Regions from separate parts of the Homo sapiens genome. Here region 1 is linked to region 2. The links come from fine-mapping of genetic effects on gene expression. A gene starts in region 2. The other region holds a variant in brackets. All regions are shown on one strand. Distances are between the middles of the regions. Region 1 holds the start of DAPK1 (death associated protein kinase 1). Region 2 holds the start of DAPK1-IT1 (DAPK1 intronic transcript 1).

Evidence for each region.
Region 1: its variant is fine-mapped to the expression of DAPK1-IT1 in monocytes (BLUEPRINT, PIP 0.95).

What each region holds. Positions count from the first base shown.
Region 1 is chr9:87,493,912-87,503,277 of GRCh38, reverse strand. It overlaps DAPK1 (death associated protein kinase 1), which reads right to left and starts at 5,411. Exons shown (of 26, transcript NM_004938.4): 1 at 5,171-5,411; 2 at 4,139-4,308. The coding sequence starts at 4,200. RefSeq lists enhancers at 627-686, 4,305-5,062 and silencers at 4,453-4,562, 4,773-4,962, 5,333-5,682, 5,703-5,762. The variant G/A (reference allele first, on the strand shown) is at 4,111.
Region 2 is chr9:87,548,098-87,557,463 of GRCh38, reverse strand. DAPK1-IT1 (DAPK1 intronic transcript 1) reads right to left here and starts at 4,010. Exons shown (of 2, transcript NR_146781.1): 1 at 3,874-4,010; 2 at 3,005-3,569. The region is part of intron 2 of DAPK1 (death associated protein kinase 1); the gene reads right to left. RefSeq lists an enhancer at 1,461-1,630.

The DNA of each region.
Region 1 (9,366 bases), 54 kb after region 2:
TATATATATATATACATATACACACACACATATATATAAAAAACATATACATATATATATATTTTAGACACATCACACTTAGTAGGTGTTCAGTAAATGCATATCTACCTGTAGACTAGAAAGACAGACTGCATGTCAGATGTTTAAAGCCACGTCTGTAATTCTAACAACACTCTACCAGGGTAGGTGTCTCCCCACTTTCCAAATGAGCATTCTCAGGTTTTTCCACACTGCACACTGCCTCTCTAACAGTATCAGCATCAGCATCATCGTTTGCATCTTACATCCCCATTCTGGTCTCAAAATTACACTTGCCAAACTGCATTAGCTCATTGAGGCATGCATTAATCCCAATATTGATCATAGATACCAATTTGCAGGAAGTCTATGAAACCCTGCACACCATGGGGAGAAAGGACCACAACAACTCCAAACCACAGGGCACACCCCAAAGAAACTCACAAGCTGGCTGCAAAGAGTAATACAAGACTAATAAACATGAAACAGGATAAACATGTCACTGGGCAGTCTATGGTCATGGACAAAGAGAGTCTCAGAGAAGTCACTTGACTTTAAAAGGGGAAACTCATTGTGGAAGGATTCATTAAGGAAGTAGGACTTAGGTCTTAAGATCATATAAGGTCAGATGGTGCAATAGGAAAGAAGGCCAGTCCCTCAGGAAAGCAGTGTACACAGAGAGGTGCCCAGGAGGCTCACAGGTTAGGCTGAACGACGGCCAAGGGTGTAACTAGAGCCCGACAATGGGGCAAGTCAGCCTGCAGCTGCCCGAGGTGCCAACTGATAAGAGATGCTAGGGCATCCTGGGGCATTAAAACACCTCGGTATAATAGCAGATTTATAAGAACTCCTCCCAGAGACTATTACACATCATGGAGGCAGTTCTTTGTTCCGCCTCCTGGGACAGAGGGTGAGACCCTAAAGGGCCTCCAGGAGCCAAAACTGAAGGCCACCAAGCACCCTTCTAAAGATAACAAGTGCATCTGCTGCAGGGACTTGCTTCTGCTTGGAGGGTGTGCCAGCTCAAGGCCAGGGCTGCATTATTCAGAATCATAGTGGAGGCTGAATGCTGTCAGCAACCCTTCTCCCCATGACCCTTTTCCTATAAGGCATCCCCTCCCAAAGCTGGTAAACAGAAACTTAAAGAATATTGACTTGCCGGCCAAGTTATTAGCTTGCCTGGGGCACCCAGATGTCTCAGCCAGTCTACAGATAATATCTATATTTGTTTAACTCTCTACTGCTGATCAACTACTTTTACAAGTTAGATTATTTTTACAACAGCAATGAAAAAAGCACTAAACCTCTCATAGAGGAAAATCCTGAGTGTCAGAGTGGGTAAATGGCCTGTTCAAGAAAACTGGCAAGTTGCAGAGCCAGGTTTTGGACCAGGGTATCTGTCCAGTGGCCCATCTGCTCTATTACTGCTGCAGATGGACTGCTGCAATAGTTGCAATACTCTATAAAGTTCCTGACCGTTGACAGAGAGCTTTTACAGAAGTCTTAGGCAGTACACACAAATACGAACATTTTCAATTTTCCTAAAAGTAAAATAACATTAACAATAATACTTGTACTCTACTTCTTCAAAAACCCATCTTTCCTCCTGGCTATGTACTTTGTCTCACTACATTTATAAGGTAAGTGAATCGTTATTATTTAGATGACTGCTAAAGATATATAAGTAAAGTCTTTTTTTTCTTTCTTTTTTTTTTGAGACAGAGTCTCGCTGTATCACCCAGGCTGGAGGGCAGTGGCGCGATCTCCATTCACTGCAACCTCCGCCTCCCAGGTTCAGGCGATTCTCATGCCTCAGCCTCCCAAATAGCTGGGACTACAGGCGCGCGCCACTGCGCCTGGCCAATTAAAGTCTTAAATCTTAGATAATTTTTTTTGTATTTTTAGTAGAGACAGGGTTTCACTATGTTAGCCAGGCTGGTCTTGAACTCCTGACCTCGTGATTTGCCTACCTCAGCCTCCCAAAAGTGCTGGGATTACAGGTGTGAGCCACCTCGCCTGGCCAAGTAAAGTCTTAAATCTTAGATACTGGTCTACTAGTAATTCACTGCTTAGAATGACCTTGCATTTGTGCCACATATCTGCCCATTTCCATTTTCCTGCCACCAAACTCCTGCCTCCACTCCCAATCTTCCCTCAGTGACACGTGATGTCATATAAGCAGCATCTTCCTACATGTCCATTTTACATTAGGACTTGTTTTCAGGAAGTGGCTACATCCAAGGCAGACATAAAATCAGGACTTGAAAAATTTTCCAAAAAACAATCATTCACTCATTTTTTGGCAAAAACAATAGCAGTTATACAAGATAGATGAGTCTGTACATTTCATTTTTAAAAACTTCAGACTTCCAGTTTTTCAGAGCATTTCTTTAAAATTCCTAGGTCACACAAATTATTTAATAAACAATTTGTCAATTTGCCTTGCACAGTGGGGAGAACGTTATACACAAAAATGTACACTGAGCAAATCAAAGTGCTAGTGACAAATAAGTAAGCCACCTCCCTCCCCTCATCATCACGCCCACGAAATAAAGATCAAAAACTCCCTTCGCCAACCACAGGGAGGCCTCTTTTTCTATTTCTTTCTCATAACACATAATGGTACCAAAAAATCATAATGAAAATAAGGTCAATATACTTAATCCATAATATAATAATCTCAACTAATTTTAGTCATCTCTCTTTCTAACAACACTTAAACGATCAGGCCACACTATGCAAATCAAATTAAAATTTATTTTTTTGCTTTTTTCTTCCAGTCCCAAAGGAAAACTCCAAATACCACTCATCTTGCTGAAAACCACAGTAAAGTTATTTAATTCCAGTTAAACCAAATATTTCACCCACACACTCTTAAACTTTAATCTTAAACATATCCATGAAATGTGATGTTTGAAGAGCTTTCCTTATTTACTCACCAGATCATCAATATACAGAGAGCTCTTCCTAAGCACAGGCCCCCATCTATGTTTTCAGTCGATACTAAATATTTAGAGAAATACTCTGTTACAGTAACTTTTAAAAAAATTCTACACTATCATTTGAATTTTTAAAAAAATTTAGTTAAGCTTAGTTTCCATAATTCTCATTAGGCAATCCAGGATGTGGGTGTTTTTTAATTTCCTTTTCATGGAGAAAAAGGAAGCTTTGTATCAGGACATCAGATGTATATGGGAAAATACATATTTCAATGCACATATAAGTAAATACATATTTTGTTTGTTTAAAGATCCTTTTGCCTACTCCACTCACAATGTAAATACACCACAGTCAAATTCCATAAATTCAGTTTTAAATGTATGTATGAAAACTAGGTTTTCTACTAAAGTTGACCAGAGCCCAAAACACTCTGTCTAATACACAGTCAAAGGAAACAGCAATCAGCCCTTAGATGCCCCGAAAGAAACTATTCTTTGTTTACCTAGAAACTGAAAGATTTTACACTGAGAATCACAGCTGCTACAGCAATGGAGGTATGCTCTGAATCCAGATAGCCATATTAGACTCTCATTGATTTGTTAAAAATTTAACATTGTAAATGAAACCAAAGCAACCACCAACACCAACCAGGTAATTAAATTCCTGGTTGGAAGAAGTTTCAAAATCCAAGCCCAATGTCAACATCTGGCAAGTCTCCATTTACCACCTACCAATACTTGCTCAAATTACACTGAAAATTTAGATAGAGGGTAAAGTACTAAGATTTTTAAAACCTATTAATTAGTTTGTACCCTCCGTTTAAATCACACATAAAAGCTAACTCCAATTGCAATTATAATCTTAGTGTTTGTCCTGTTGTCACAGAAGGGCAAGGGCTGACAAGAGTTAGCACGGACAATTAAATCTGATTTTGTCCAGGGGACTGGATCAATATACTGTGCATCATAATCTAGCCCTGAACTGCTGCCTCTCCTCCACCCCCAGGCCCTTGGATCAGGCGGTTTACCGCTGGGTTAGTAACTCTTTTCTCTATGATTTGCGCATCTCCAGAAAGGGCGAGGGAGACGCCTGATTCAAACTGCATTTGTTTACCACCCAATGGCCCCATCGTTATGCATTTCCACAATCCAG[G/A]AGGGTACGCTTCTGGTACCCCCTTTACCTGCCAAGTTCCTCGCCGGTGTCGTAGTAATCATCCACGTTTTCCTGCCTGAACACGGTCATGATAAACTGTCACGCCTCACCAAAGCCCAGGGCACTTCAGCTCCGCTTCCCAGACCATCACCACCGCTCCTGCGCCTCCGTAGCCCCCTCATGCATCAGTCTCCAGTCCTTTTGAAGAAAAAAAAAAGGCAATAATAATAGTAAAATGGCAACCCCAAAAGGAAGTAGACCTCCCCGGCGCTAAGACCCCGCTCGCTGAAGACCGGGTCTCCGGAGCTGCCCCTCCTCGCGGGGTGGAGAGGAGCACCCTTTGTTAAAGCTGGGCGGCCAGGGACGCCCCCGACCCCTCAGCCCCGCGCGCGCGTGGGGCCGGGCACCACGGCACCCCGAGGTCGGCGTCCCCAAACGCTGGGCGGTCTGTTGGGATCAGAACCGGCTCCGGAAGTGACTGGCCTCCCCGCCTCCCCTTTCTCTGCACACATGCCCACCCAGCTTTCCCACCTCCAGGGACGCCGCGGAAGAATGAAGCCCTCGCCCAGACGGTACGCGCCTCACTGGGAGCAATCTCTCTCCAGCCTGCGGCAACGGTGGCACCCCCGCGCCACCTCTCGGCTCCCGCGCCTCTCCTAACACCGTGGCCACCCTCTCCCCTTCCCCGAGCGAGGCAGTCCCCAGAGCCACATTCCTGGCGACTCCCTCTCCGTTACCCGGCCGACCCGGCGTGCGGCCGCCCGGGGGAGCAAGGGAGGGAAGGGAGCGGCCCACCGAGGCGCAGCAGTTCGCTCCAGATCCTCGCGCCCCGACACAAAGCGCCTGGTCGGGCCGGCGCCACCTGTTCTCACCCGGCCCGCGGGGCTGGGGAAGCCTCCCGGCTGCGATCGCACTTCTCCCCGAAGCCAAGTTTCCCTCCGCCTTGGCCTTCCCAGTTGCTCGAGGCACTGCCCGGACAAACCCCACCGCGCCCTGGCTGGGAAAGCAAAAGCTGGCGCCGGGGGTCGGGGGGACCGGGGAGCCGCGCCTGGCTACTCACCCGGGCGCCTGGGAGCTCCCCCGGTCCCTCCGGAGCGCTGTCGGAGGCCGACCATAGGCGCCAGCGCCGGAGACTAGCCGGGGCGGCGGCGGGAACACAGCTAGGGAGTGAGTGGGGGGCGCAGATCCCTCCCAGGCGCCGGCCCCAGACCCTGCCGCTGCGAGTTGCCGAGTCCCCTCCGCGGAGGGAACAAAGTCCCCGGCGTTGGCTCGGTCCGGCTGTCCTCCTCACACTCCGAAGCAGCCTCTCGGCTCCTTGCCGCCTTTTGGGCGGAGGGCGGCCGGCAGGCGGCCAATGGGGACCCTGCAAGCGGGCTGGCGGCGCGGCCCACCCACCTCCGAGCTGCCCTGCCAGGCCGGCGCTGCGGGTTCTGCGCGGCGCTCGCTGCTCCTCCCAGCTCCGCGCTCCGGGCTCGCTGGCGCGCTCTACCGCGCACACCCCGCACACACCCACTCGCCCCACACCCACGCCGGCCGGGGAGCCAGTGCGTCCGCCCGGAACGCGGGCGCCCCACCTGTGACACATTGCTAAGCTGCCCTCTGACTGGGTTCTAGGGAAACACGGTTCTTCCGTCCCGAGATGTGTACTGGGATCCCAGCTTGTGCCGGGCACGGTGCTTGGTATGGGAAAATCACATAGAACAAAACAGATTTTTTTAAATCCCTGCCTTCCGGAAACCTGCATTCTGGTGGGACAGATAGATAATAAATATGTAAGCTAATTAATAAGGTAATTTTGGAGGATCAGTCCTACGTTTACCACGAAACAGGTTAATGGAATAGAGAATGGCAGGAAGGGAGCGTACCTCATTAGACTGGGTTCCTCTGCCGGACTGGTGTTGGAGCCGAGGCTTGAAGGCAAGAAGGTTTGCAATCTGAAGAAAGGGTTGAGGTCTCCGAGACCCAAAGAAGCAACAGAGACGCAGAGTTTATTTGCGCTATCCCATATGCTATTGGCTATTGTTGAGCTGAAATGTAGCTAGTCCCAAATTAATTGTGCTGTAAGTGTAAAATACACATTAGAGTCCAAGACAGTATGGATATGAGAATGAAAAATATCTCATGAATATTTTTATATTCATTACACTTTCAAATGATAGTATTTTGGATACGTTGGGTTAAACAAAATATATTATTAAAATTAATTTCACCTGTTTACTTTCTTTTTTTTGAGACGGAGTCTCACTCTGTCGCCAGGCTGGAGTGTAGTGGAGCGTGGCAACCTCCACCTCCAGGGTTCAAGTGATTCTCCTGCCTCGGCCTCCCCAGTAGCTAGGACTACAGTCGCGCGTCACCATGCCCAGCTAATTTTTGTATTTTTAGTAGAGACGGGGTTTCACCGTGTCGACCAGGATGGTCTCCATCTCTTGACCTCGTGATCCGCCCGCCTGGGCCTCCCAAAGTGCTGGGATTACAGGCGTGAGCCACCGCGCCCGGCCTCACCTGTTTACTTTTTAAAAGGTGGCCACTAGAAAATATAACAGTACCTATGTTGCTTGCATGAGATTTCTGAGGACTGTGCTGGTCTACACAAAGATCCCATATCCACTGGAGACCTCTATCCACTTTCTCTACTTCCCACCCCTTGCTCCCACCTAATGTTTGGGTGGAGACGAAGAAGGGTTGATTCCCCACATCCCACTGCTGGAGAACCCCAAACGGTGAAAAGCTCCTAAAGGGAAATCTATTTTACTGCCTAGAATGATGAAAACTGACAGATGAAGAGATTTCCGATCCATACCGTTGTTCAAATCCCCAGGCTTTCTAAACTGAGTTGGTTCAAATCTCTGTGGTTCAACAGAAATTTTCAACTGTGAAGATTTTGGCCTCTTGAAAACAAGGCAAAACAAAACAAAAGAATACCCCTCAGGCCTTATGTCAAATCCTAGTCTTTTTTTTTTTTTTGAGACGGGTTTTCGCTCTTGTGGCCCAGACTGGAGTGCAGTTGTGAAATCTTGGCTCACTGCAAACTCCGCCTCCGCCTCCCGGGTTCAAGCGATTCTCCTGCCTCAGGCTACCCAGTAGCTGGGATTACAGGCATGTGACTATGCCCGGCTAATTTTGTATTTTTAGTAGAGACGTGGTTTCACCATGTTGGTCAGGCTGGTCTTGAACTCCTGACCTCAGGTGATCCTCCCGGCTCGGCCTCCCACAGTGCTGGGATTACAGGCGTGAGCCACTGCGCCCAGCCAAATCCTAGTCTTAAATAACATTGCATTAATGACCCACAGGAAGGGCACACAGGAATCAAGGGGAAGTCCCCAAATTGGGAGATGGTATTAGCTTAAGCAGTGGGCTTGATAATACAAAAGGGTCTTGAGAGGTGAGAAATACAGTCAAAAATAACAACAACAACAAAAAAAGAGTGATTCATCTGGGAAAATGCAAATGAATACATCTGTTGGGAGAAAAAATTTAAAACACAGATGTTTGGGATAAACTTGGAAGGTGTTTATGGATGACTGCCATATGGGTAATATTTATTTTCTGCAAAATAAAAAATATATTGTCCGAGGCAATTAAAAGGACTGAATCTATTTGGCAGCTAGAATGTCTTAACTACCCTAATGGACAATGATGTTCACCGGAGATTATCTGGAGTAGTGAAAAAGAGCATGAAATTTGGAGTCACAAAATTAGATCTAGTATTGGTGGAACCATTTAACAGCTTAATAACCTTGGATGAGTCACTAACCCCCGAGCTTTTTGTGTACACCAATTTAGACAAGCATTTTAGAAAGGGGAAATGTGGTCATTTAAAAACATATTCACAAATTCTTTGACACTCCCCCAATCAAGAGGTGGAGTCTAATTCCCCTCTCAATAAATATTCACCAACCCTATCTGCTTGCTTCTAAGAAAAGGTAGTGGCAGTGGCACAGTGTAATTTATTTCCAAGGTTAGGTCATAAGGCATTAGAGCTTCTGCCTGCTTGCTTCTCTTTCTCTCTCTCTCTCTCTCTCTCTCTTTCCCTCCCTCCCTCTCCCCCTCCACCCACTCTAAAGCCTTCAGCTGTCATGATTACCCTAGGGCTGCCATGTAGAGACATGTGACAAAACCACAGAAAGAACGAGAGATGCCCAGAGAAGCCAGCTGTCCAGCCCCACCCTCACTCCCAGTTGTTTATATCTTCCAGTTCAAGTTCTGTGAGCAAAATCAATGACTTTTAATGTTTTAAGTCATTATTTCAGAGTGGTTTGTTATGTAGCAATAGATTATCTTCTTAAAAAGAAAAATTAAGAAAACTTTTCTCTTAACACATACCAGGTTCCAGACAGATGAAATAATTCTCTCAATTAATCTTTAAATAAATTAGCGGGGTTTTTATTTAATAAATAAATAAATAAATAAGTGGTTATTTCCACTTTACATGTAAACGTCTCAGTTTCATCACCTGTGAAATGAAGATGATTATAGACCCTTACATATTCCTTGGGTTTGTTGGGAGAATCTAAAGAGATAATGCATGAAACAGGACTTTGTACATTATAAAATACACCAGAATGTTGGATATTTTATTTTCTATCATGTCCCTAGCAAAAAGGACTCAGAGAGGCATCTCACACATAGAAGGCAACAATATAAGAAGCCACAAATTATGAGATGCCAGTTGAGAAGGACTTCTATAAAAATAATTATGATATGGACTATGGATTATAATAATGATGGCGATAATATTTTAAACAAACCCGACTGTAGATTTTAGAACATTATTTTACAGTCGTATTAGGGTAAAATAACCATTGCTATAAGACCCAACAAATCCCAGAGGTTTAACACATTAAAAATGTGTTACTTGCTCTCAGCACAAAGGTTTGCAGGGCATAAGCAGAGATCAGCTCCACAGTAGTCATTCAGAAACCCAGGTTTCTGCCATCTAATGAATCCATGCTCCTCCAGCGTAAGTTCCTCAGTTTATCCTTTCCATCTTTTGGCTGATGAGAGAAGAGATAATACAGGGAGGATTGCACTGAAGGTTTATGTAGGAGGTCAGATTTGAAGTCTGAGACAATCATTTTCTGGCAAGATGTTCTCAGCTCAAAGTGGACCATATTATCTCATTTCCACCTTTTGGTTGCTTTTTTGTAACATGGCTTTGGTTTTATCAAGGGCTAATATTTTTAAGAATGTTTCCCACTTTGGGAGGCCGAGGCGGGCAGATCACGAGGTCAGGAGATCAAGAGCATCCTAGCTAAC
Region 2 (9,366 bases):
GTTTTAGAGCTCACAAAAGATGTTTTGAATCACAGGAAGAAAGCTGTATTTTCTTCATGAGATTAATAATCTAATTTGGAAGGACGAGGAAGGCAGTGGGTGAAACGTAGAAAGAACACGACAGGAAGGTACAGGACAAAGGGTCTCCCCTGACAGGGCCATGGTGGGAAATGAAGATGTGGGTTTCCAGACTCTTCTCAGATGGATCTGAGCATTCCTCATGGGGCTGCCTGGATGGATGTGTGGCTGCCAGGTAACACTTGCTTTGAACAAAGGTTCTGAGCCCAGAGGTTTGAAAACCACTGGCCTTACAATGCCAGACACTGAGCTTCGAGGATGTTGAGGAAGAGTTGCTCCTCCCTTCCCGCAACACCGCCAAGAGGGAAGGGTGAGGGGAAGGGCCAGGCTGCCTTCCTCTTTTCTGTTCTTTATGAGATATGAATCCCTAGAGGCCAAGGGGAAAGCCGAAGGTCAACTGCCCACCTCCGCCAAGGTTCCTGATAACACATCTCAGAGAAGCTCCTCTCCCACCCACAACTGCAGGACTGGCTCTTCAAGGAACACGCCCAAGGCAGCCCAGGAGGCCTGGCCTGCAAAGGCTCTGCCCAGCAGGCACAACTCATGTCTATTCTCACTCCCTACTAGAAACAAGGACCAAGAAAAGCAATTCCAAACCTGAGGAGAGCATTCCTTCTCCTGAGGGTATGGGCTGAGGAGCCACACAGGCCTCGATATGTTCTCCAGCGAGCTCCTGGAGCGAGAAGTACCACAGCCTTGTACCATGATCACAAGTGAAAGACCTCACCTTTCAGAGACCAAACCCTGCTCTGTGAAAGGGTAGCTGAGGCTACTCCACAGAGTTTCAGCAGGAGACCGCCATCCTCCCCATGCTCTGCCAATCCCCCGCACTCCTCCTGACATTAGCATGATGGGGCCAGGCTGTAGCATTCACTGATGTGGCCAGAATACTAACCCATGCATGGCTTCCCATGACACTGAATAAATCCATGATTCAAAGACAGCAAAAGGAAGCCCCTTTGCCCGTGACGGGCAGCATGCACAGTGGGTACAGGTACACACACGTGGGCACCCTCCCCAGCTCTGTGAGCTTTGACAAAGGAAGCTTGGGCAAAGTACCTTGCCTCTCTGCACCTGTTTCCTCCTCCATAAAATCAACATAATACTTGTACCAACCTCACAGCGCTGTTGTGAAGATTAAATGAGGTAACACAGGAAAAAGCACTTAGAACAATGCCAGCCCACACAGGTGCTGGGCTGCATAAGTCATTATTAACTACATGTCCACCCAAAATGTCCTTCTATTTTTGGGTCCTGCATCACTGATGAGTTTCGGTGACGGAGATTAGAATACAAAAAAACAGTTCTTCATATGCCCCGGGCAGTAATTACCATGGTGGCATTTACTCTTGCTTCTTCCTTCATAATACCTCATTTTCTCATTCGTCTTTTTAGGAATAAAACAGAAGCTACTGACAACACGTACTAGTGACTACTTCCATTCCTCTAAATAATAATTTTCCCATGCAATTGTTTAATCATATTGATATGGAACTCGCCTAGCTTTTAGTTAGCCGGTAATTTGTTAACAGTGTGCTCTTGCATGACTGCATATTTGTTCTTAACGATAAGCTTTAAAGTGCTTCTGGCTGCAGTGGCTTACGCCTGTAATCCCAGCACTTTGGGAGGCCAAGGCAGGCAGATCACCTGAGGTCGGGAGTTCGAGACCAGCCTGACCAACATGGAGAAACCCTGTCTCTACTAAAAATACAAAATTAGCTGGGCGTGGTGGCGCATGCCTGTAATCCCAGCTACTCGGGAGGCTGAGGCAGGAAAATTGCTTGAACCCGGGAGGCAGAGGTTGCAGTGAGCCGAGATCACACCATTGCACTCCAGCCTGGGTAACAAGAGCGAAACTCCATCTCAAAAAAAAAAAAAATAACTAAATAAAATAAAGTGCTTCATGATAAATAAATTTCACTTTGTTTTTTCTGTTGTTGTTTGTGTTACTAATACTTCTTGAGGAAGTATATCAGATAGCCCCAGGGTGTCATTCTCATCTAGTCCTTGTGTCTGTGACAGAGAAGGAAAAGAGAGAAGGCAAAAGGGAGGGCAGATATGTTGCTTAAGAGGTCAAGACAAGGCTTAGCTGGGACCTAATTGTCTGACTTAATGTCTGCTTAAGAACGTGCTGTATTATGGAAATGCCCTAACGGGACAGCTAGATCAGGAACTGGGTTTTCTGGGACCATGAGGTTTAGAAATAAGGAACTTCCTTTGCTGACAAAAAGGGATGTTATGTAAACCCCCAAGTCCTTAAGTCATAATACTGAGGCTGCCCTTGAGGGCAGGGTGATGAGACCCTGGTGCACACCCACACAGCTTTCCCCACTTCTTTGCTCAGGACTCTTCAGAGGTCCCTGCAGGGTTCCTCCATGGTTCTAGAAAGTTCCTTGGCACTAAGAACCCTCTCCAGAGATCAAGGGGCCTCTACAACTGATACCATCATTAGATTCTCACTGTAGATTGTGGCAGAGAACTTGCCACCAGAAGGGCTTCCCTTTAATGACCTCCAGGAGAACTGGCTGAAGCCAAGGGCAGAAGCCCTGACACTCTCAGACCTCCGGTGGGGGTGGGGGAAATGGCTACACGGCCTGGGTGGGAGACAGCATCAGCTTCCTCCCTCCCGCCAGAGCAGTCAGGCCGAGGCCAGCTGATGGCACTTTGCTCATTTGGGTCCAGGTTGCCATGGAGATCAGCGATCTCCCTAGATGCCTCCTGACTATAGGAGCAACTAGCGCATTACTGCCGAGGGATCTACATGAGCGCCCTAAGTCCTACTGTGGAGAGGGCCTTCCTGTGGAAGGCTCCTAAGGGTGGTCCCATCCATCTTCTGGCTTGAGTCAAAGACAGAGTTCCAGCATAGTCACTGTTATGTCCGGAGGTAAAAATTCTTTAAACTGAATTTCCTAGATGAAGTAAAGACTTTTTTTTTTTTTAGTATTACATTTTATTTTTACTGCTTCTTCCAGTATTGCACAATCCCATAATTATTGCTATTCAGCTAAAAACATGCCTCGAGGCATTGCAGAAGATGAGAATAATAATTTTAAAAACTGGAGTCAGCAACACGAACTCTTGAAAGCACTAGTATAAAAGCATTCAAGAAATAACTTCCTCTGGCTTCCTTGGACTTGTTTAAGAGATTACTAATGGCAAAATCAAGTGGAAATTTTAATGGATCAGTAGGTCTTTATGAACTATAAGTTCCCCAGATGAAAATCAAAATGCTGCTCGTGATGTATGCCTTAGAACAGGATTGCTGACCTAAGGTCTGGGAACCTGCTAAGGCTGTGGGCTTATGCACTGAGTATTTGAGAGCATTTTTCTGAAAAGGGGAGCACATAGCTCTCAACTACTCTCCAAGGGGGTCCCCCAAATGTTAAATTTAGAGTTTGCTTAGTTGACAGCAGAGTTTCCCGATCGGGTTCCCTTTTGTTGTTCTAGTGAACAGGTAAAAACTCAGTGAAAGGCAGACTGGGAATGTTCTCCTGCCTCCCTTTCTGCCCACAAGCCACATGTCTCATCCTTTTTCTTCCGCTTCCTCTCCTTATTGCCCTCATCTGTGGAATATTGAAAATAAATATTGAGGCCGGGCATGGTGGCTCACGCCTGTAATCCCAGCACTTTGGGAGGCCCAGGCGGGCGGATCACTTGATGTCAGGAGGTCGAGACCAGCCTGGCTAACAGGGCAAAACCCCGTCTCTATTAAAAATACAAAAATTAGCCGGGCATGGTGGCACACACCTGTGATCCCAGCTACTCGGGAGGCTGAGGCAGGAGAATCACTTAAACCTGGGAGGTGGAGGTTGCAGTGAGCCGAGATCGCACCACTGCACACCCGCCTGGGCAACAGACCGAGACTCCATCTCAAAAAAAAAAAAAAAAAGAAAAGAAAAGAAAAAGAAAATAAATATTGAGCACCCTAAGCACCAGACATAGTGCTCAGGGCTTGGGATACAGGGACAAACAAGACACAGCCCATGTCCTTAAGGAGCGGAGAATCGGATAAAAGAAAAGATCCCATGAATGGTTAACTGAATGCACATATTAATTATCAAGAAGCATATGCACAGGATGATGGCAAAGGCAGAAAGACTGCTGTGTAGATACCAAATATTTCCAATCACCCAACCCCCCCCACATGACAGACACAAGTCAAGGAAAAAAATACTCAGGTCTGATGAGTGAGATTTTGCTTGGTTTACTGCCTAGCTGGCCAGCTGGAACTTAAATATCAACAATATCAGGACCAGAACAATGTGTCTTCTCAAAAGTAGATTTAAATTCAGAGACAGAAAGTAGAAAGGTAATTGCCAGGGGCTAGGAGGAGAAGGAAATGTAGTTAGTATTTAATGGATACACAGTTTCAGCTTGGGATGACGAAAAAGTTCTGGAGATAAACGTTAGTGAGGGCTGCAACACAACGTGAATGTTCTTACTGCCACTGAACTGTGCACTTAAAAATGGTTCAAATGGTAAATATAGCCAGGCTCAATGGCTCACACCTGTAATCCTGACACTTCGGGAAGCTGTGTGGGAGAATCGCTTGAGGCCTGGAGTTCTAGAACAGCCTGAGCAACGCAGAGACCCCATCTCTACTAGAAATCTTAAAAAAAAAAAAAAATTAACGGGGTACAGTGGGGCATGTCTATAGTCCTAGCTACTTGGGAGGCTGAGGCAGGAGGATCACCTAAGCCCAGAAGCTGGAGGTTGCAGTGAGCTATGATTGTACCACTGCACACCAGCCTGGGTGACAGAGCAAGACCTTGTCTCCAAAAAAAAAGAGGTACATTTTAAAGCACGTGCATTATACAACAATAAAATTATTTTAATTGATTTTTTTTCTGTCTGTACTTGATAAAAAGAGATGCCACAACTGCCTATGTCTGCCCAGGTGCTAGAGAAAATTAGTGTGTGGGCCACAAGTTTCACAGCTCTAATGTACATTAGGTTCTTCCATATTTTCCAGAAAGTGGTGCCCCGTCACTGTTCAAGCTGGCACACTCCTTCCAGCTGCAGATATCCCTCCTTCCAGCTGCAGATATCCCTCCCTTGTCCTCTTTAAGATGGGGTCAGCGGGGTTGGGACTGAAGTCCTAGGTACAGAAAGCCCTGGGCTGTAATGATCTAGGCAGACCAAGCCTCACACTCCCTCCTGAGGACTTCCTGCCAAGCAGTATCCCCTCCCTACTTGCTGGCCTTGCCAGGCTCTGGGCTCCCTACTGGCTCCTGGAAGCTGTGGGACCCCAGGCAGGGCCCTGCCTGGGCTGAGAGGCACAGTCTCATGTTTCCAACACCAGCAGCCTGAAAGGTGAGCCAGCCTCGCGAGGCCTGCTGGCTGGTTTAGAACTTGATCTTGGTTATCACAGGGACTCCTCACCCTCCAAGCCCCTCTGGCTTACTGGCAGCTGAGATTATTCTAGAGTGTAGTTGTTGATCTAGATTCCGGCTGCCCACGGAGGCATCTGAGACTCACATCTGCTGCAGGCTAGACTTTCACGTGTCTATCAGCAGCGCCCGCCCCTCAGAGATGACAGCACAGGGTGATGCTTATCTTCGGGTCTCTCCTCCTGGGCTCTACGGTGACTCTCTCCGGCTTGGTTACAGCTTCTCCATGTTGCTGTATCAGGACCTGCACTTCCCTGAGAGAGTTCATGGGCCCCTCACCTTCCCTTGAGGATGAAGGAGGATGTGGCCCTGGGCCAGACCCCAACTCCCACCATGGGCCCATAATGGGTCCCTGGATCCCTTCTCTCGCCCTTATCCTCAAAAGCTGCTGTCCTGTCCTTCATCCACTGTCACTACTGTCCTGGGAACAGGACCTTCTCCCCAACTCCCCACTTCCTTACTGGTCCAGGTGACCGGATCTCAGCCTTTAAGGACTTCATCACCAACCTCAAAGGGAAACCAACAGATTGGCTTAAAATCTAAATTAACAGGCTGCGCACGGTGACTCACGCCTGTAATCCCAGCACTTTGGGAGGCCAAGGTGGGTGGATCATAAGGTCAGGAGTTCGAGACCAGCCTGGCCAACATGGTGAAACCCCGTCTCTAGTAAAAATACAAAAATTAGCCAGGCGTGGTGGTGGGCGCCTGTAATCCCAGCTACTCAGGAGGCTGAGGCAGGAGAATCACTTGAACCCAGGAGGCAGAGGTTGCAGTGAGCCGAGATCGCACCACTGCACTCCAGCCTGGGCGACAGAGCGAGACTCCGCCTCAAAAAAAAAAAAAATTCAAATTAATAGATGTGATGATGTTGCCCAGTTTTAAGAAGCAGGATCTGTGGTTTGTAGCTACTGTCTCCACCAGACTGAAGCAGCACTGGGGAAGAGCCATCCCGGCTGCTGGCCAAGGTGGGGGGACCCAACAGCTTGGCCTTCTGCCTTCAGAGGACCATCCTTCCACATGTGTCCCCAGGTTAGCCCCCTCCCCGGGGTCAGGGTATGTATCCAAGAAAAATAAAAGCACACGTCCACAGAAACACTTGTGCAAAAATGTTCCTAGCAGCTTTATTCACGACAGCCAAAAACGGCACCCATCAACAAGCATGGCTTGGTACAGCTTGGCTTAGCTGTAGTCCATTTCTAGAATGGAGCACTACTCGGCAGTAACAGCAAACCACTGGTACATAAAACAACCCAGGTGCTGCTGTCATGGGTTGAATTATGACCCCCTCAAATTTGTATACTGATGTCCTAACCCCCAGTACCTTATTTGTAAGGTAGCTTTATTTGGAAATATGGTCATTGTAGATGTCATTAGTTAAGAAGGGTTCATCCTGCAGTAGGTTGCACTCCCAATTCAATATGATGGGTGTCCTTAGGAGGACCATAGGTCCTTAGGGGGAAATTTGGACATAGAAAAGCAGAATGCCATGTGCAGACTGGAATTATGCTGCCACAAGGCAAAGAACTTCCAGGAGCTAGCAGAGAAGCCTGGAACACATTCTAAATGACACCTTGATCTTGGACTTCCAGCTTCCCAAACTGTGAGGCAATAAATTTCTCTTGTTTGAACTACACAGTCTGTGGTATTTTGTTATAACAGCCCTAGCACACTAATGTGGCTGGCAACAGAAGTCTTGCACAAAATAATAAACACATTCTAGGATCTCATCCACATGAAGTTCTTGAACAGGTTAAACGAACCTATGGTGAAAAAATCAGAACACTGGTTTCCTTTGGAGGGATGGGGGTGGGAATGATTGAGAAGGGGCAAGAGAGAACTCTCTAGGGTGACGGTTAATGTTTTGTGATTATCCTGACAGGGGTTCATGTTACCCAGGGAATGCAATTGTCAAACCTCATCAAAGGACGTGCTTAGGACTTCTGCATTTCACTACATATAAACTTTACCCGACACAGAAAAAACCAGCAACAAGCACCGAGCTCTAGGAAATGACACGCATGACGAAGCCTTAAAAGGATGAGGTATACAGACACCTGCAACTTACTTTGAAATGCATAAAGTAATGAAGATGGCGTGACAGAGGGAAAGATAAAAAAAATGTTCATTGTGGATCTGGGTAACAGACAGATGGGTATTCATGATACTTTTTTCCCCCACTTTTCCATATATTTGAAATTTTTCATAACAAAATGTGGAAAAACATTAACACTGATCATGGTTTCTTTTGGTGCTCTGCTACGAGTTGTACAAGTGCATTGCTGAGGCTCTAGAAGGCACGTCATAAAAGCAATGTAAAAGGAGGGGCGAGGGGACATTATTTTGTGCTGAGATGTGTACTCTTTGTGATGAGAAGTGTTCTTCATTCTACATTCTTTGTAAAACTAATTTAAATTGTGTGAAATGCCTAATTAAAACAGAATAAGGTTTGGGTGATACTAAGAATTTTTTCGTCATTTCAGAGATAGTGAGGATAACCCATACCAACAAACTACATTAGAATGAAATCCCCAGCAATCTCATTACTATATAACCCCCCCATACAAATTGTTCTATTATAAAGATACACGTATGGGTATGTTCACTGCAGCACTATTCACAATAGCAAAGACATGGAATCAACCCAAATGCCCATCAATGATAGATTGGATAAAGAAAATGTGGTACATATACAACATGGAATACTATGCAGCCATAAAAAGGAATGAGATCATGTCCTCTGCAGGGACATGGATGGAGCTAGAGGCCATTATCCTCAGCAAACTAACACAGGAACAGAAAACCAAACACTGCATGTTCTCACTTGTAAGTGGGAGCTGAGTGATGAGAACACACGGACACAGGGAGGGAAACAACACACACTGAAGCCTGTGGGGGATGCAGGGAGGGAGAGCATCAGGAAGAATAGCTAATGGGTACTGGGTTAATATCTAGGTGATTGGATGATCTGTGCAGCAAACCACCATGGCACACATTTACCTATGTAACAAACCTGTACATCCTGCAAATGTACCCCTGAACTTAAAAGTTAAAAGCCAAAAAAAAAAAAAAAAAAAAAAAAAAAGGAATGAAATCCACTCAGTGGGTGGTGAATTACCAAAAGGATGCATTCTTTACAACCTACTGTGGAGGGTGGATTTTGTCCATAGCCCCACAAAACAGAACCAGATCTTCAAACATACACAGGAAGACTCGGCTGAGAACCTCAGGTACAGTGCAGCGCAAATCTTCAGTGCACGCTCACCAGGAGCAACATCAGTACTGTGTTCCCAAGACAGCAGCCAAATCCATGCAACACTGGTTCAGAAATGGTTATCCCAAAGAAAAGATACAAAATAATAACAGTGCCATGCTTTCCTCTTTGAGTGAGGGAAGAAACTCTGAACACAAAATTTAGTTGTTGTTGGGGAATCCAGTGTTTCAGCATTAGCTCAAAGAAAAGAGTATCAATCAATTCCACTTTTCAGTAACCAAATGTTTTCTATTGACTACCTTACCAAACTTATATGTTGCAAGAGAACAGACCCAGGAACAGGAGAAATGTAGTCCACAAAGTGGTGAAAAAGAGAGAGAGAAAATATAGGAGAGAATCATCATTCCCATTTTACAGATGGTGATACTGAGGTTCAGTGTTCCACGTCACATAGCTATTTAGGGGGAAAACCAGGGGTCTAACGCAGGCCTTCTGACTTTGGTCCTGGTGAGAAAAAAAGATTGATGTTTAGGAAACAGCTTTGCCCCTCCAAGCCAAGGGGGCCTTGCGAAAGGTAATGGTGAAGCACACAGCCTCTGCCACCAAGCTGGAGAGTGAATCCTGATTTGCTGGCTGTGTGACCTCAGGCAAGCCTTACTCTTTGTGCTGCATTATTGCTGCCTAGAG